Linked DNA regions of Homo sapiens: region 1 is linked to region 2. Evidence: fine-mapped expression QTL. A gene starts in region 2. The other region holds a variant in brackets. All regions are shown on one strand. Distances are from middle to middle.

Region 1 (8,317 bases), 41 kb before region 2:
GTAGCCTCGCAGGGAAGGAGATACCTGAGCAGAGACTAGAAGGAGCTGAGGGGGGCGGGAGGGGACTTGGGGAAGAGCAACCAGGCAGAGAGAACCGTCGTGCAAAGGAGCTGAGTGAGTGAGGCCAGCGGGGGAGGCCAGACAGAGAGGCGGCTGGTGGTGGATGGGGAGAGGGAAGCGGCTGGAAGAGCTCAGGAGCCCAGGAAGGACTGGCCTGCACCGGGACATGCCTGAAGGGGGCGCACTGTCTTTACAAAGGAAGGGACTGAGGCCTCCAAGGGAATGGGACTCGCCTGGGGTCCCAGAGCAAGCTTGACAGCCTGGCCCCGCCCCACTCCTCCGCCAGCTTGGTGGCCAAGGTCTGTGTTGGGGGCCACTCTCTATCCCCCCGACTACAGGTCGGGAGCTGCTGGTGATGGAACCAGGGGCTGAGTATGCAGTGCTGGCCACATACTAGGAGAATCCCAGGATGGGGTTCAGCAGTGTTGATGAGGATAATGAAGGAAATCAGGGGGAGGTGAAGAAAACAGAGGAAGGGGGTGAGTAAAAGAAAGGTCATGGAGGAGGTGTGGGGAGGTGGAAGGTGGAGGTGATGGAGGTGGTGATGGGGGTGGAAGGTGGAGACGATGGAGGAGGTGGCGGAGGTAGAGGTGGAGGTGGTGGAGGTGGAGGTGGTGGAGGTGGAGGTGGTGGAGGTGAAGGTGGAGGAGGTAGAGGTAGAGGTGCTGGAGGTGGAGGTAATGGAGGTGGAAGTGGAGGTGGAGGTGATGGTGGAGGTGGTGGAGGTGGAAGTGGAGGTGGAGGTGACGGTGGAGGTGGTGGAGTTGCTGGAGGTGGAGGTGGTGGAAGTGGAGGTGGAGGTGATGGAGGAGGAGATGCTGGAGGTGGAGGTGATGGAGATGGAGGTGGAGGTCGTGGCGGTGGAGGTGGTGAAGGAAGAGGTGCTGGAGGTGGAGGTGATGGAGGTGGAGGTGGTGAAGGAAGAGGTGATGAAGGAGGAGGTGGAGGTGCTGGAGGTGGTGGAGGAGGAGGAGGTGCTGGAGTTGGAGGTGATATGGAGGGTGTGATGGGATAGCACTGACATTGGTGGTGCAGGAGTGATGGTGGAGGAGAGGACGGAGGTGGAGACCTCATTGGAGGCTGGTGGAGGTCGCGTGGCAGAGGTGGCAATGGTGGGCCCTGGCAGCATGAGGCTGGTGGTTGGTACCAGGGCCAAGTCCAGGGCTTCACCCCCGTCCCCACTCTGAACCCCATCAGTCCTTCTCTCCAAGTCTCAGTTTTCACTTCTGCACAAGGGGTCCATAACCACCATGGCCTCTGGGTTGGCACAGGGGTGGCCTTTAGGATTGGTGTGGGGGTGAACCTGATGTTGGGTGGGGTGCTGGCGGGGGTCAGGTGGCGGTGGTGATGGGTAGGGGATGCACAGAGGGGGCATCCAGGCGGCCCCCCTACTCCAACTCACACCTCTGTCAGCGGCTGTGGGGGATGGGAGCAATGACAAAGCTGCTCGCGGTAAACAGCTCCGACTGGATCGATCTGGGCTGTGAGGAGCTGTAATTAGATTGAACGCCGGGAAGGGGGGCAGCAGAGCCTCTTTTTGCTGCAATCGACAAAACGGGAAGTTTTTTCAGACTCTGCCTGGCCCGGCCCCTCCCCCAGCCTCTGCCTCTGGGGTCCCCATTAGGCACCAGATTGGAGCCTGGGAGGTGGGGTGGGAAAGGGACGATATGCATCCTACCTCCCTCCCCCATCTAGGCCAGTGGACTCTGTTTTCTGGGCTGCCCTATTGGGACTGGCTGGGCAAGCCTGAGGGGTGGCTCACATTCTCTGAGTAAATAAGGAGAAAACCCCCTGCCTTGTAGAATTATTGTAAGGATTGAGGCTGGGTACTGTGATTCATGCCTGTAACCCCAGCACTTTGGGAAGCTGAAGCTAGAGGATTGCTTGAACCCAGGAGTTAGAGACCAGCCTGGACAACATAGTGAGACCACATTTCTACAAACAAACAAAAAACATATATATATGTTTGTGGGGGTTTTTTGTTTTTTGTTTTTTAATTAGCCAGATGTGGTGATGTGCACCCGTGGTCCCACCTACTTGGGAGGCTGAGGTGGAAGGATTGCTTGAGCCCAGGAGTTCAAGGATGCAGTGAGTCATGATTGCACCACTGCACTCCAGCCTGGGCGACACAGCAAGACCCTGTCTCAAAACAAAACAAGAATTATTGTTAAGAATTGAGTGACCAGATACATATAAAGCTCTTGACACAAAGCTCTTGTGAGCTTTCTGAGGAGCATTTGTATTTCTGTCCCTACTGTAAATGTAGGATAAATTTGTGAGTAAATTGCTAAGTGAATGAATAAATGAGTGAGTGAATGAATTAAACATTACAACAGGTGAGCGAGAAGGGCCTCCCTTGGAATTTCAAGGCCCCGGTTGAGTTTTGACTCAGCTTTCCCTTTGAAAGAATGGAGGACTGGGTCCTCTCCTGTAATCCTCATAGGGTGGCCGAGTGCCAAAGAGGTGAGAGGTCAATTCAGTTTTTTGCATTTCCTTCCATGTTTCTTTATGCAGATAAAATATAAACATAGGTTCTTGTCTCTCCTTTCACACATAAAAGGCTCCCTGGTACACTGTTCACCCTTCAGGATTTCCTTTGCCATCTTTCCAGATTCATACCCATACTCTCCCTCTCTGTCAGTCTCTCAATATAATTACAAATACAGTCTGTTGCCTAAATTAACATTTAGTAATTAACATTATTACGCTTTTGGAAAACATTGTCCACAGCTGAGCCATGTAGAGTACTAGGACTGCATTTCCTTTCCTGTACAACTCTTTGGTTTTCCAGGAGTTGATAGCTGCCAAACAAAAATTCTTCCCACGCTCCCCAACAAAATTTAAAACCAACTCAATAGGACTTTCCACACATATTAGGTCATCTCTGATCTGGGTGGGGCTGCCCTCCATACCCTGGGTCCTTTTGTCTAGCTGTCTTCCAGGGTCCCCCTCATCCTGATTTGGAGGACCCCTTTTCTCTTTCAGCTAGGTTGGATCACATTTTCTGAATCCCACACCATCCTTTTTTTATTTACCTCCTCGTTTGAATGGAACACATCCTCCAGTAGCTTTCTGAGAAAGGGTATGTGGGAAGTTAAGTTTTGGAGTCCTTGAACATCCGATTATATCTTTATTGCACCTTCATGTTTGGTCTTTTGTTATTTAGCAATTCTAGCTGAAAATAACTTTTCCTTGGAACTTTGAAAGCCTTGCTCTGTTGTCTGCTAGTTTTTGCACACCCAAAGCTGCTTGGATTCTTGATCCTTTGCATGACATCTGGCTTTCCTCTAGGCGCTTTTTAGGATTTTCTCTTTATTCTTGGTGCTCTGAAATTTCACAACAACGAGGCTTGAGTGTCTTTTTCATTCAATGAGCTGAGGACTTGATGTCCCACCCCCATTTTTTTAGAGCTGGGGTCTCGCTCTGTCATCCAGGCTGGAGTGCAGTATCATGATCATAACTCACTGCAGCCTTGACCTTCTGGGCTCAAATGATCCTCCTACCTCAGCATCCTGAATAACTGGGACCACAGGTGTGAGTCACCATGCCTGGCTAATTTTAAATTTTTTGTAGCAATGGGGTCTCACTATATTCTCCAAGCTGCTCTCAACCTCTTGGGCTCAAGTGATCCTCCCACCTCAGCCTCCCAAAGTGCTGGGATTAGAGGCATGAGCCACTTCATCCAGCCTATTTAGTTATTATTTATTTATTTATTTATTTATTTATTTATTTATTTATTTTTGAGACGGAGTCTCGCTCTGTTGCCCAGGCTGGAGTGAGTGGTGTGATCTCAGCTCACACCTCTGCTTACTGGGTTCAAGCGACTCTCCTGCCTCAGCCTCCCCAGTAGCTGGGATTCCAAGCACCTGCCACCACACTCAGCTAATTTTTTTTGTATTTTTTGTGGAGACAGAGTTTCATCATGTTGACCAGGCTGGTCTCGAACTCCTGACCTCAAGCGATCCACCTACCTTGGCCTCCCAAAGTGCTGGGATTACAAGAATGAGCCACCATGCCCAGTGGGCCTATTTATATTTAAAAATTATTTATTTTAAAAGAGAGTCTTACTCTGTCACCCAGGCTGGAGTGCAGTGGTGAGATCATGCTCACTGTAGCCTTGAACCCCCAGCCTCAAGTGTTCCTCCTGCCTCAGCCTCCCAAAATGCTGAGATTACAGGCATGAGCCACTGCACCTGACCACATTTAAACTGGAAACTCATCTTTCAACGCTAGATTTTTTTTCATTATTTGATCATCTCTTCCTCTATTTTTGAACTGTCTCTTGATCAGGTGACAACCCTGCTTCATCTTAATTCATCCTCTAACTTTTTATTCTCTTTCATTTCCCATCTTTGCAGCTGCTTGTGTTCCATTTTCTGGGATATCTGCTTTACTCTTTTTTTTTTTTTTTTTTTTTTTTGAGATGGAGTTTCACTCTTGTTGCCCAGGCTGAAATGCAATGGCACGATCTTGGCTCACCACAACTTCTGCCTCCCAGATTCAAGCAATTCTCCTGCCTCAGCCTCCCGAGTAGCTGGGATTACAGGCATGCACCACCACGTCCAGCTAATTTTTTTTTTTTTTTTTTTTTTTTAGTAGAGACAGGGTTTCACCGTGTTAGCCAGGATGGTCTTGATCTCCTGACCTCGTGATCCGCCCGCCTCGGCCTCCCAAAGTGCTGGGATTACAGGCGTGAGCCACCGCGCCCGGCCAATATCTGCTTAACTTTATCTTCCAGTCCTTACATGGAATTATTTTACTCTGGCTGTTATATATTCACATTTTAAGAGCATTTCCTCACTCTCTAATGGTCCCTTTTACTTAACAGCATCCTGTACTTGTTTCATGGATACGATATTTTTCTCTTACTCCTCTGGGAATATTAATTATAGCTTTGCCTGCCTTGTCGGTTCCTTCTGAGTTTATTCCTCCCCCACCAAACCATTTTTCTCCATTGTTCTCCCCCCTCCTGCCTCCCTCCCTCTCTCTCTCTCCCTCTCTTTTTCATGTTAGACGCTTTTCTAAAATGTGCAGTAACCCACAGGCATCACTTGCATTTAATCATAAAACCTGAAACCGCAGTTAGAAGCCCCACACATTCCAGGTCAGAGGGAGTGAAGTGTGCGTCAGCTCACACCCTAGACGGG[T/C]GAACCTGTTGTCCCCGAGACATGAGTCATGGCAGAAGGAACATTCATTTATTTCTGTGGACGTGTATGGACATTGATCTAGCATGTCATGTTCCAGGCTGTTCTGCAACGAAAAGAAAAGCTCTCTGTGCCATTCCAGTAGGCCACGACGGCTGGCACAGAGAAGAGACTGGGAGCAGAGACCCACTAGTACTACCTGCACCACCGGCCACTTCTGGGGGTCACAGAGTAGCTGGAACTCCGGGATGGAGACAAGGGCAGGACAGCCTCTTCAGCACCACAGTCCCAGTCTGGATGCAGGAGAGAAATTGAGATTCTGATGGAGTTTCAAGCTGATGCCACAAATGAGCCCATCTGACTTGTGGCCCAGCTCCTAGTGGGGGAAGCCTGTGTTTTGTACCCACTGACACCCACTGCATTGAGGGGAGGGGTTCACTTCGCTGCTGGAGCAGGAAGAGCAGGACTCGGCTTCAGCCCTGCCCCATCACCCCGAGCCTTTGCTTTTCTCCCCTTTGCAAGTGTCTGGTCTGCAGGCCATGGGGCAGCCTCCTTCAGCCCTCTCCGTGATCTGTGCGGGCTGACCAAGAGGAAGGGTGACCTGCTCATCTGGGAGAGGAAGAGGTGGTCCCTGCACTCTCCCCTCCTCCTCCAAAGTCTTCTTTCTTAGATGTTCTGCGCTCCAGAGGGTCCACTGGGTGCTCGAGGGAGGCCAAGTCTGGGTGGTCTCAGCCTGTGGATAGGGGCAGGAGCAGGAGGCAGGGATTCAGATGTCGGAATTGGGCTGTGGACTCACAGGGTCCCTAAGGGTATCAGGCCTTACAGGAGTGTCGCTGCTGCTCATTCGTAGAGCTTGGTTGTCACAGCCAGTTGCCATGGCACACACCTGTAATCCCAGTGCTTTGGGAGGCTGAGGCCAGAGGATCACTTGAGGCCAGGCGTTCGAGACCAGCCTGGGCAACATAGCAAGACTTCCCCTCCGCAAAAAAAAAAAAGAAAAGAAAGAAAGGAAAGGCCCTGGTTAGCCCACCATTTCTGGGGAAGGCTGCTGGGTTTTGTGATGCACCCCAGGACCTAGTAATTAACCAGTTATTTCACCCAAGTCTACACTGAGCCAAAAACTCTCATGTGCAGTTTCCATGTCATTTCCCCAACACCCCCAGGTTGGGGCTGCAGAAAGGAGAGGAGAAAGTTACCAATATCAATTTCTGTGGTCCTTTAGGTAGGGAGCGTTTGAGGGTAGGACGGGGTTTGGGGGGTATGAGGCTTGGGGGGTGCCTGAGTGGGCTCCATGGAGAAGGGGGCTGGAGGGGGTGGTAGCCATGCCTGCAGAGGGGCACTCACACTGTGTCCCCTTCTTTGTCCTCCCCCCACCCCCACCGCATCTGCTTTCCCTGCCTGTCCTCGCCTTCCATTCTGTCTCCACCGCCCTCTGGCTGCATCCTGGACTTTCCTGTTGTCTCCCTGTTGACCTTGCTGTTTCCCTGTCTCTGTCTCTGTGCGTCCCTGTGTTCCCCGCTGTCTCCCCCTCCGCCTCTCCCTGCATTCTTGTTGCTTCTGGGCTCTCCCTGGGACCTTATGTGCATTCGCCTTTCCCCAACGTGTCCCTTCTCCCCTCCTCCTCATCCTCCGGGCGGCGTGCGCCTCCTGCCTCTCCCCGGCCGGCCACACGGTGGCGCTGTGTCCCGCTCGCCCGCCCGCCCGCCGCTCGCCCGCAGCCTGCAAGCGCAAGGAACAGGAGCAGCAGAAGGAGCGCGCCCTGCAGCCCAAGAAGCAGCGCCTGGTGTTCACCGACCTGCAGCGACGCACGCTGATCGCCATCTTCAAGGAGAACAAGCGGCCGTCCAAGGAGATGCAGGTCACCATCTCGCAGCAGCTCGGCTTGGAGCTCAACACCGTCAGCAACTTCTTCATGAACGCGCGGCGCCGCTGCATGAACCGCTGGGCTGAGGAGCCCAGCACGGCCCCCGGGGGCCCCGCCGGCGCCACGGCCACTTTCTCCAAGGCCTGAGGCGCCCCGGCCCCGCGCCCTCCCTGCCTCCACGGCCTGGGCGCTGTGCCCCCACGTCACCTCCCCACATCCTGCCGGCCCGGAGACCCGCCCCCAGGGGGCACCTGGAGGGGGTGCTATCCGGGCCCCCCACACCCGGGGAGGGGGAAGCAGCACACCCCCCAGCCCAAGTGCACAAAAAGGGCCCCCCTTCCTCCCTCCATGCCCACTCCCTCCAGGCCAAAGGAAGCCCTCCACCCCCCCCCGGAGGGGAGGGAGTGACAGAAAGGGGTTTCCCAGCCCCCTCTCCATTCAGGACGCCCAGAGGGCCTCGAGAAAAACCAGGGCTCACTGTGTTGTCCCCTAAAGCGGGTCAAGAAGCACATACTAGAAATATAAACCGGGTATTTAAAAATGGAATTTTAAAGAATAACCCCTCCTCCGTCAGATCCCCTGCCCCACCGAGGGAGGTAGTAGAAAACTTCCTTCCTCCCCACCCGCCCCGGCCCCCTCCCCAGGGACCTCAGCCCTTTCCAAAGTCGCCAAAAACCCACATCAAGCCGGATCCTTACGGTCCCCCACCCTCTCCAAAACCAACCCCACCCGCTGGCAGGACGGCCCCTGCGGCCGAGAACTGAGCTGCCCCTCTCTGCGGCCAGGATTCCTCGTGCCAAGAATCGCCTGCCTTAAAGTCTGGGGAGGGGCCTGCGGCGGGCGCCCAGCACCTACGGGCGAGCACCCTTCCCACCCCATCCCAGGCCGCAGGGGACGGGGGGCTCCCACGTGCGGGTAAATTCCAGACGCCCCCGCCCCGCCCCGTCTGTTGAGTTCACTTTACCTTTAGGCACCTTCGTGGAGCGCAAGGAAGGACGCAGCTCCGGACACGGGAGACCACGCCCAGGCTCCCAGGAGAAGGGGACCCGGCCGGAGAAGGCGCCGCTGGGGCCGCCCGGAGGAGCCCCTCTGCACGGGCCCGTGGAGACGCTTCCTGCGTGGAACCTTCTGGAATCCACCGCCCCCCTTTCCGCCCGCGTCAGGGTCTGAACTGGGCTTGCAGGGGGGCAGCGGGGTTGAACGTGGTGTTGGTTTCCACTCTCGCCAAAGAGAGAAGACGCCGAGGAAG
Region 2 (8,317 bases):
TCACGTGCACTGGGACAGGGCAAATGAGACACACAGAACTCTTGTGCCAAACCAGTGATTTGGTTAGGACGGGCGGTTCGGTCCTCGAGATGAAAATAAAAATATCGGCCAGACATGGTGGCTCACCCCTGTAATCCCAGCATTTCGGGAGGTCAAGGTGGGTGGATCACTTGAGGTCAGGAGTTCCAGACCAGCCTGGCCAACATGACAAAACCCCATCTCTACTAAAGATGCAAAAAATTAGCCGGGCGTGGTTGTGGGTGCCTGTAATCCCAGCTACTTGGGAGTCTCAGGCAGGAGAATCACTAGAACCCGGGAGGCAGAGGTTGCAGTGAGCCGAGATCTCGCCACTGCATTCCAGCCTGGGCGACAGAGCGAGACTCCATCTTAAAACAAAACAGAAAAAAGAAAAAAGAGGCTGGGCGCAGTGGCTTACGCCTGTAATCCCAGCACTTTGGGAGGCCGAGGTGGGTGGATCACCTGAGATCAGGAGTTCGAGACCAGCCTGGCCAACATGGTGAAACTGTCTCTACTAAAAATACAAAAATTAGTCAGGCGTGGTGGTGCATGCCTGTAATCCCAGCTACTTGGGAGGCTGAGGCAGGAGAATTGCTTGAACCCCGGAGGTGGAGGTTGCAGTGAGCCGAGATGTCGCCACTGCACTCCAGCCTGGGCAACAGAGGGAGACTCTGTCTCAAAAAAAAAAAAGAAAGAAAGAAAAAGAAAACGAAAACCAAAAAAAGAAAACTATCGAGCAAATACAAGCAGAGGCAGGACTCAGGAGGAGCAAAAAATAGATTCCCCGAGGGTACCACGGCAGCTCCTCTGGAGCAGGGAGGCGCGGGAGGGGCCGCCCACCTTGTATTTCTTCCTTTGCCAGCACAGGATCACCTTCTCCTTGAACTGCCCGTTGTAGGCACGGTTGTTGGCCTGGACCTTCCAGGTGAATGCTGCAGCGAGAGAGCCGGGCGTCGCTGGAGCTCGAGGCCCAGGACAAACACCCCTAATGACCGCCCGGAGGAGGGCTCATGGGGCCCGTGGGACCCAGGCACTGGGGAGGCCCGAGATGTCAGAGCCCGTAAACAGACAGTCGGGCAGCAGGCACCACCTGGGGACCTACCAGACCCTGCCCATAGTTGGCGCCGGCACAAGTGGATTCCGAGAGTGGCCACCCACACCCCCAGCCAGGGGCCTGTCCTGAGACGCAGAGAACAGGCCCTGGGAGACCGTTCAGGCCTGTACATTTTACAGAGGGGGGTAAACTGAGGCTTGGTGATGGGCTCTTGGGTGTCCAAGGCCATACATCCAGCTGGCGGCCCAGATCTTTCTGGGCATGCAGCCCCCAAATCCTGAGCCAAATCCCCCAAACCCAGTCAGTACTAGGGTTGGAGACTACTAGAAACCAAATGAGAATCCTAGGCAAGGCCTGACGTGCAGGTCTGGGGGCCCCAGCCCGTCTCAGCCTCAGCCCTGCACTTTTTTCTTTTTTTTGAGATGGAGTCTCGCTCTGTCACCCAGGCTGGAGTGCAGTAGCACAATCGCAGCTCACTGCAACCTCCACCTCCTGGGTCTCCTGGGTTCAAGTGATTCTCCTGTCTCAGCCTCCCAAGTAGCTAGAATTACAGGCATACGCCACCACGCCCAGCTAATCTTCGTACTTTTAGTAGAAACGGGGTTTCTCCATGTTGCCCAGGCTCTCGAACCCCTGACCTCAAGTGATCCACCCGCCTCAGCCTCCCAAAGTGCCGGGATTACAGGGGAGAGCCACCACGCCTGGCCAGCCCTGAACTTCATAATCCCTCCCACCTGCACCGCCCCCTCTGCCCAGGATCAGCACCTGAGTTCCTGTCCTCATCTTGGAGATCTTCTCTCTGGCCGAGGCTGCCCATGCTGGTGGGGCTGTGGGAGAGAAGGGCCCCGGGTCACAGCAGTGACCCCAGCCCTTGCTGGGCACCACTCGGTCTTCAAGGAGCTCACAGCCTAGGGGCCGACCCTCTCAAATGCTACCTCCCACACTCATCTGCAGCCTCCCCGCCAGGCTCTGAATGTCCAGCCATAGGCTGTGTGTCTTGCCTTGGACATCCTGAGACCTAGGGGACCCCAAGATGATCCTCAAACCTGCAACAGCCCATCTGCCAGTGTCCCCCGCCAGCCACCCTGGTCGCCTCCCGCCAGTACAGCCTAGAAGGACTCTACCGCCAGCCATGCCAGCCTCTGGCCATGCCAGCCTCCGGCCACTGCTCCCCACACCTCGCTTTTCCTGAAAGGACCACTCTCACCTCCTCCTGGTTTCACTGACGGCCTCCTGCCCCTCTCCCCATGTGGCACCAGCTTAGGGGCTCAGTCATCTGTTCACTGACTGAATGGGACCCCCGGGCTATATGTTATATCTCAAAACACAGCATGAGGGTCAGGCATGGCCACTCCCCTCCTCACCCCCCCAGGCTGGGCAGCAAACTCTGATGGGGGCGATGGAGGCAGACGGACATCGTCAGAAGATCCTGGAATCTTCTCCACTAGCAGGTTCAGGAATGTGGGTCTGGCTCTAGCCCTGCACCGGGGGCCCTGGTTTGGCCCCCTATGAGGATGGGCAAACCACCCCTAGACGCCAGCAACTGGCCCCCCACCTGCCAGCTCTCTAGCAGTGCCCTCCCCGCCAAGCCCCTGCCCCTGTGTTCCGGCCACCCGATGCACCCGTCCTCACCCTTCTGGTCTCCATTCATACTTCCTAGCCCGGCCAGGCTGGGCCTTGTGCCTCCTCTCAGGTGCCCCTCTGCCTGGGGAGTCTCCCATCCCAGCTCTGATCACCGTCTCACCTCCGCGGATGCCAGCAGGACCTGAGCCTTCCTGAGTCACGTCTGAGTCACCCGTGTCCCCAGGTCCTGGTGGGGCAGGGCTTGGCTCAGGGCCAGCTCTGGTGCTCCTGGGAGTCTGAGCGGGGCCAGTGCCCATTCACCGCATGAGGAAAAGGGAGGTTCAGGGCGAAGAGGGGTTTAGGCTGTGGGACGGGGGAGAGGTGGGGGAGACCCCCGTGGGGGCAGACTGGGGATTGGAGAGTTGGAGAGAATGCTCAAATGGCCAGAATCCACTCGAAGTGTATCTGGGGGCAGAAAGAGACACGGACACAGCGCTGGCTTCCTGCCCCCTCACTAACTGGGATGCCCCATTACTCGGAAGCCCCCCACCCCGTCTTCCCGCAGCCGCAGGGGCACAGGACCGCCCTGGACAGGGCTCCAGAGTCCAGGGCTGTCTGCACCCGCCCCGGGGCCCCGACCGCGCGAACCTCTAGGGGCGCGCTCTCCACCCCCGCCGCCACGACCCCAGCTCTCAGCCTGGGTGGAGCCCAGAGAGGGTGCGCGGGCTCCCGGGGACGCACAGCAGTGGGAGCACCCGCCGCTCACCGGCGCAGGAGAGGCAGGGGGGGGCAGGCCGCGGGCGTCCAGGGCGGCGGACGTGGTGGAACCGTTAGCCCGGTGCCAACGGTCCTGAAACGGGGGGCGGGATCTCGGGGCGGGGCCTCGGGGCCCGGCCAAGGCGAAGGTGGAGCCAGTTCGGACCCCGGAAGGGGGCCGGGGGCGGGGCCTGGAGGGGGTGGGTGGGGCCAAGGCGAAGAAGGGGCGGGGCCTCGAGGGTGGGGCCGAGCGGAGCACGGCCGAGCAGGATGGGGGCCAGGCCTCAGGGACGCGGTCACGGCCGAAGGGCGGGGCCTCGCAGAGCCTCGCAGAACAGGCCGGGATAGAAGACGCTCGGGAGCAGTGCCTGGGTCTGGGGAGGGGCCGGGACTTTGGGGAAGGGACTAGAAGGAAGGCGAGGACGAGCGGGGTCTCGCTGAGCAAAGTCAGAGTAGGGGCGGGGCCAGGACTCAGGGGCTTGGCCAGAGCGGGAAGCGGGGTTGAGCATGGCCTTGCGGAGCAGTGTTATGGTAGGGGCGGGGCTGGGATCCGGAGCCGTTACAAAGGAGGAAGGCGGGGCCGCGCAGAGCAGGGTCAGGGTAGGAGGGCGCTCAGGGTGGGTCCAGGACAGAAGGCAGGGCCTTGGGAGGGCCTTAGGGAGCAGTGCCAGTGCAGGGGCGGAGCCTGAAAGGGAAGAGGGTGTCAGGGCAGGGCCGGGCCGGGCTTGGTCAGGGAGCAGAAAGAACCTGCACCGCAGGGCGGGGTTGGAAGGGTTCTTGGAAAGGTGGGCCTGGGTCAGGTCGGAATGGGCCTTGCAGACCTGACGGGGCTGAGGCTGGTGCGGCCAGCGTGGCAGAGTGCAGGAGGAAGGACCACAGGTAACGGCGGTTATGTAAGTCATGTCTGATCCGTGTCCTGGGTTCGTTCATTCATCCCATACACGTTCAACGAGCGCCTCCTAGGCGCAGATGCAGGGCTGAGCACCAGGCTGGGGAGAGGCGGTTATAGCCATTGAGACCACCCTAAGGCCAAGAGGAAGCCCGCAGGGTTCTTTCCAGCAGGTGGCAGGGGCTCAGGGATCCTTACTGAAGAAGTGGCAGGGGTGAGTTCAGCGACGAGGCTAGGGCGGGTCCAGGCCAGCGATAGGGCCTGGAGCCAGGGTCAGAAAGTGTGTGCGGAGGGGCTGCTGAAGATGAAATGCCCCCAAGAGTGAGGCTACCTGGGGTGAGGGCCCAAAGGGAGAGGCAAACATGGGTGGAGGGGGATAGGGAAGCCACCTCCCCCATCAAAGCGGCAACCACCTGAGGGCTCTCGGTGATCACAAACCCTCTTTCTTTGGAAGCCCAAATTGGAAGCCTGCTTGGCCCTGGAGGCTGCCAGGGAACCTCTCTTTTTTTGGAGACAGAGTCTCACTGTGTCACCCGGGCTGGAGTGCAGTGGTGCGATCAGAGCTCACTGCAGCCTCCACCTCCTGGGCTCAAGCGATCCTCCTGCCTCAGCCTCCAGAGTAGCTGGGACCACAAGCAGGCAGGCAGGCCACTGTGTTTGACTTCTCTCCTTTCATTCCTTCAACACTTCCCCTGTGCTTGCTTGCTTGCTCAGTGGTTACGAAAAAAAGCCGGGGCTGGGAGTTTGAACACACTGTTCTAATAAACTTTAGAAGAGACCTGGTTGGGTGCAGCTGTGAGGACCAGATTCCCCCACCCCAGCCTTCGCAGGGGGCACTATCTGGGGGCAGGAGCTTGCCCAGGGCACTTGTGCAAAGGCCCTGAAGCCTCCAGTGGCAACAGGTGGCTTCACAAGCTGAAGGGAGTCCCTGGGGGCTGAAGCCAGGGCTGGCCAGCCTTGGGACCCCCCGTGGGCTATGTCCTGAGGCACCAGGTGCGTTCTGGGAAGGGGGAGGCAGACATCACATGGGAATGCACAGAAACAGAGCGCATACACGCCTGCGCCATTTATTTAGAACACAGAGCCGGGCACAGTGGCTCATGCCTGTAATCCCAACGCTTTGGGAGGCCGAGGCAGGTGGATCACTTGAGGTCAGGAGTTCGAGACCAGCTTGGCCAACGTGGTGAAACCCCATCTCTACTAAAAATACGAAATTAGCCAGGTGTGATGGCACAGCCATAATCCCAGCTACTCGGCAGACAGAGGTTGCAGCCAGCTGAGACTGGGTGACAAAGCGAGACTGTGTCTCAAAAATAAAGAAGAAAAAGAAAACAACTCCTTTACAGAAGAGGTGGGAGAGTCACTAGTCACAAGAACAGCCCTCGAGGGTGGAAGGGCCTGGCCTAACCACGGTCCCCCAGGAGGGCCCTGGAGAGATGCAGAGCCCAGAACCGGGAAGGGAGCCTTGGGATGGAGTCCTCTGGGGAGGGCCCCCACGTCCTCATCCCGGGACCTGTGCCCTTGGCCTTGCCCTTCAGCAGAAGCCCAAGACCAGGGTGGCAGGAAACCCACTCCAGGCAACCTGCCCCCAGCTGCTGGGTCCTGTCCCGCAAGGCTCATCACTTTTTCTACTTGAGGTCAATAAAAAGTGGGGCCTAAACACCCCTGGGCCTCCCATTTCCAAATGGGGTCCCGATGCAACCACAGTTGCCCGAGACGTGCGTGCACTACACAATGTGTGGCGTTTCCTGGCAAGGGCCGGAGCAGCTTTCCGTGTCTGCACTCCATCCTTTGACGGGCAACACACAGCAGCTCCCAGTCTCTTTAACCCCCTCTCACCATCTGTGTGCAGTCCCTATCTCTGGGCAGGGCAGAGAGGGAAGCCAGCTCTGTGCACAGGGCCCAGCTCCACACAGGGCTGGGGACACCACCCACTGTCCGAGAGGCACTAGAAGCTGCAGGATGGTGGCCCATGATCTGGGGCTGGAACTGGGACCCCACAGCAGGTGTGGCCCAGCCCTGGGGGAGCCAGCCCTGGGCCAGCTTTTGTGAGGGAAAGTTTCACTGCTCTGTTTTCTCTGCGTTGATGGGAAGAGAATCAGTCCCGGCTGCAGGGACAGTGGCCTCCCCGGGGCACATGCAGAGGCCTCACCAGGCACCAAGACCAAGACCACCACAAAATCTAAAATCCATACAAACATTTATTCTGTCCCTGCCTGGAGGTGAGGGGGAAGGGGGTCCGGAGAGCCCCGCAGAGGAGGACGGGGCTCTAGCGGGAAGACAGTGTCCGGAGGCCGGTGGGCTCCCTCTAGACGGCAGACCCTGGGGCTAACGAGGGGCCAGCTGGGTTCTCAGAGGTCACGGAGTGCAGGGGTGGGGCGGCGAGTGGTGGAAGCCGGCGCCCCCGAAGACCGGCCAGCCCCTGGAGCACAGAGGCGGGTCCAGCCCACACTGCGCTGAGTGTGGCCCTGGCCCCCACTGGGGTCTGTCCCACCCCCACCCCGCAGGAGGGAAGGCAGCAGGCCCGCTCTTCCCGGTGGGAAAGATGCTGTGCAAGTCATCAGGTTTAAATTAAAAATAATAAAAATAACAATACAAAATAAAAAAAGACTGTCTCAAACAAACCTGGGACAAGCCCGCCCCGCGACCCACGTGAGGAGCAGAGGTGCCGGCCACCACCCGGGAGGGAGGGCCTGGCAGGAGGGGCAGGAGGGGCTGCGGGCCGGGTGGGGGCGGGCTCTGTCCTGGTCTCCATCAGCAGCAGTTTCTAGAGACGCCAGAGGGCTGGGGGGCAGAGGGTGGGGACCGGCGGAGGGGTGCGGCAGGACGTGAGCGGGGGTGGGCTGGGCTGGGCGTTCTCTGGCCGCCAGCTCATCCCGCTGCTCTGGGCTGCCTCGGCCAGGTGGACGGGTTACCGGAGATTTATTGCACTGTTTTGGAAGAGGCATGGGGCTAAGGACCAGCGGGACGGCAGGAGAGGCGGGTGGGAGGCGGGCAGGCGTCATCGCTTGGTCTTGGCGTCTTCTCGAACCTTCCAGATCACCAGGTGCATGCAGGCGCCGGCGTCCTCGCTGGAGCTGTGCCCATCCACTGCGGGGCAGATGCGGTGAGCACCCGGCCCCTGCGCAGGGACGGCCCCAGGGCAGGCACCGGCACTCACCATTGTCCTGGATGATCTGTCTGAGGTAGTCGGCCATGAGGTTCCGCAGGGACCGCTTGTAGGGGAGGCCCAGGCGGTGGGGGAAGAGCACAGACGTGTCCACCACGGTGCTGTGGATGACCTGTGGGCAGCGGCAGAGATCAGCGCACGTGGGGCCTGCGCAGGTCCTGCTGGAGAACCGCGCGGGACCCGGGCCGGCAGGGCACCTTCAGGGCCAGGAGGTCGCTCTCCAGGCTGTGTCCGATGAGGATGGTGTCAGCGCTGAACATGCTCAGCAGAACGGCCTGGACGTCACGCAGCGTGACACTTGTGTCGGCAAGGTCAGCCTCCGTCACCCCCGAAAACCTGGGGGAACGGGCAGGAGGGGCACCAGGGCTCAGCCTGGAAGCACTGGCTGGTGGGGCGGGGGAGGGTGGGTCCCTGGGGAGAGGCGGCTGGGAGGGCTCCCAGCTCGTGGAGGGCACTGGCCACACCTGGTGTTGTAGTCCACGATCTCGTTGTCAGGCTTCACGAAGGTGTCATAAACCACGTGCACGTCCGTGTCGACCACCGTGACGCGCGTCAGCTCCAGGCCATATGTGGTGTAGGACTGCGGGCAAGGGATGCACCTCAGATGTGTCCCAGGCACCGGCCTCCCTCCCTCCCCTTCCCTGCCCCTTTGAGTCTCCAGAGCCCCTCCAGGCAGAGGCAGTGACCAGAGACTCTGTGGGACTTCTAGGAGAGGCCGAGTGGGGTGTGACCTCAGTAACCCCCTTTCGCAAAGCCCTCCTGCCTCCCATTCAGAGGCAGAGCCGGGGCCCAGTGCCCGGTGTGCTTGGCTCTGCTGGGAAGTATGGGGTGTTGGTCCAGGGCAGGAGCCACAGGCACCGGTGCTGCG

What was found. PIP is the estimated chance that this variant, and not a neighbour inherited with it, causes the effect.
Region 1: its variant is fine-mapped to the expression of ATP8B3 in unexposed skin (GTEx, PIP above 0.99).

What each region holds. Positions count from the first base shown.
Region 1 is chr19:1,768,231-1,776,547 of GRCh38, forward strand. ONECUT3 (one cut homeobox 3) reads left to right here. Exons shown (of 2, transcript NM_001080488.2): 2 at 6,923-8,317. The coding sequence ends at 7,215. LOC101928543 (a long non-coding RNA gene) reads right to left here and starts at 6,120. Exons shown (of 5, transcript XR_007067085.1): 1 at 6,028-6,120; 2 at 5,806-5,937; 3 at 5,404-5,497; 4 at 5,213-5,310; 5 at 1,537-1,600. RefSeq lists an enhancer at 1-82. The variant T/C (reference allele first, on the strand shown) is at 5,208.
Region 2 is chr19:1,808,785-1,817,101 of GRCh38, forward strand. ATP8B3 (ATPase phospholipid transporting 8B3) reads right to left here and starts at 3,492. Exons shown (of 29, transcript NM_138813.4): 1 at 3,402-3,492; 2 at 2,705-3,100; 3 at 1,838-1,899; 4 at 859-950. The coding sequence starts at 2,952. It overlaps REXO1 (RNA exonuclease 1 homolog), which reads right to left. Exons shown (of 16, transcript NM_020695.4): 13 at 7,914-8,029; 14 at 7,647-7,785; 15 at 7,441-7,561; 16 at 6,464-7,370. The coding sequence ends at 7,282. It overlaps MIR1909 (microRNA 1909), which reads right to left and starts at 7,454; the gene lies at 7,375-7,454. RefSeq lists enhancers at 3,000-3,745, 4,126-4,285 and a silencer at 3,206-3,575.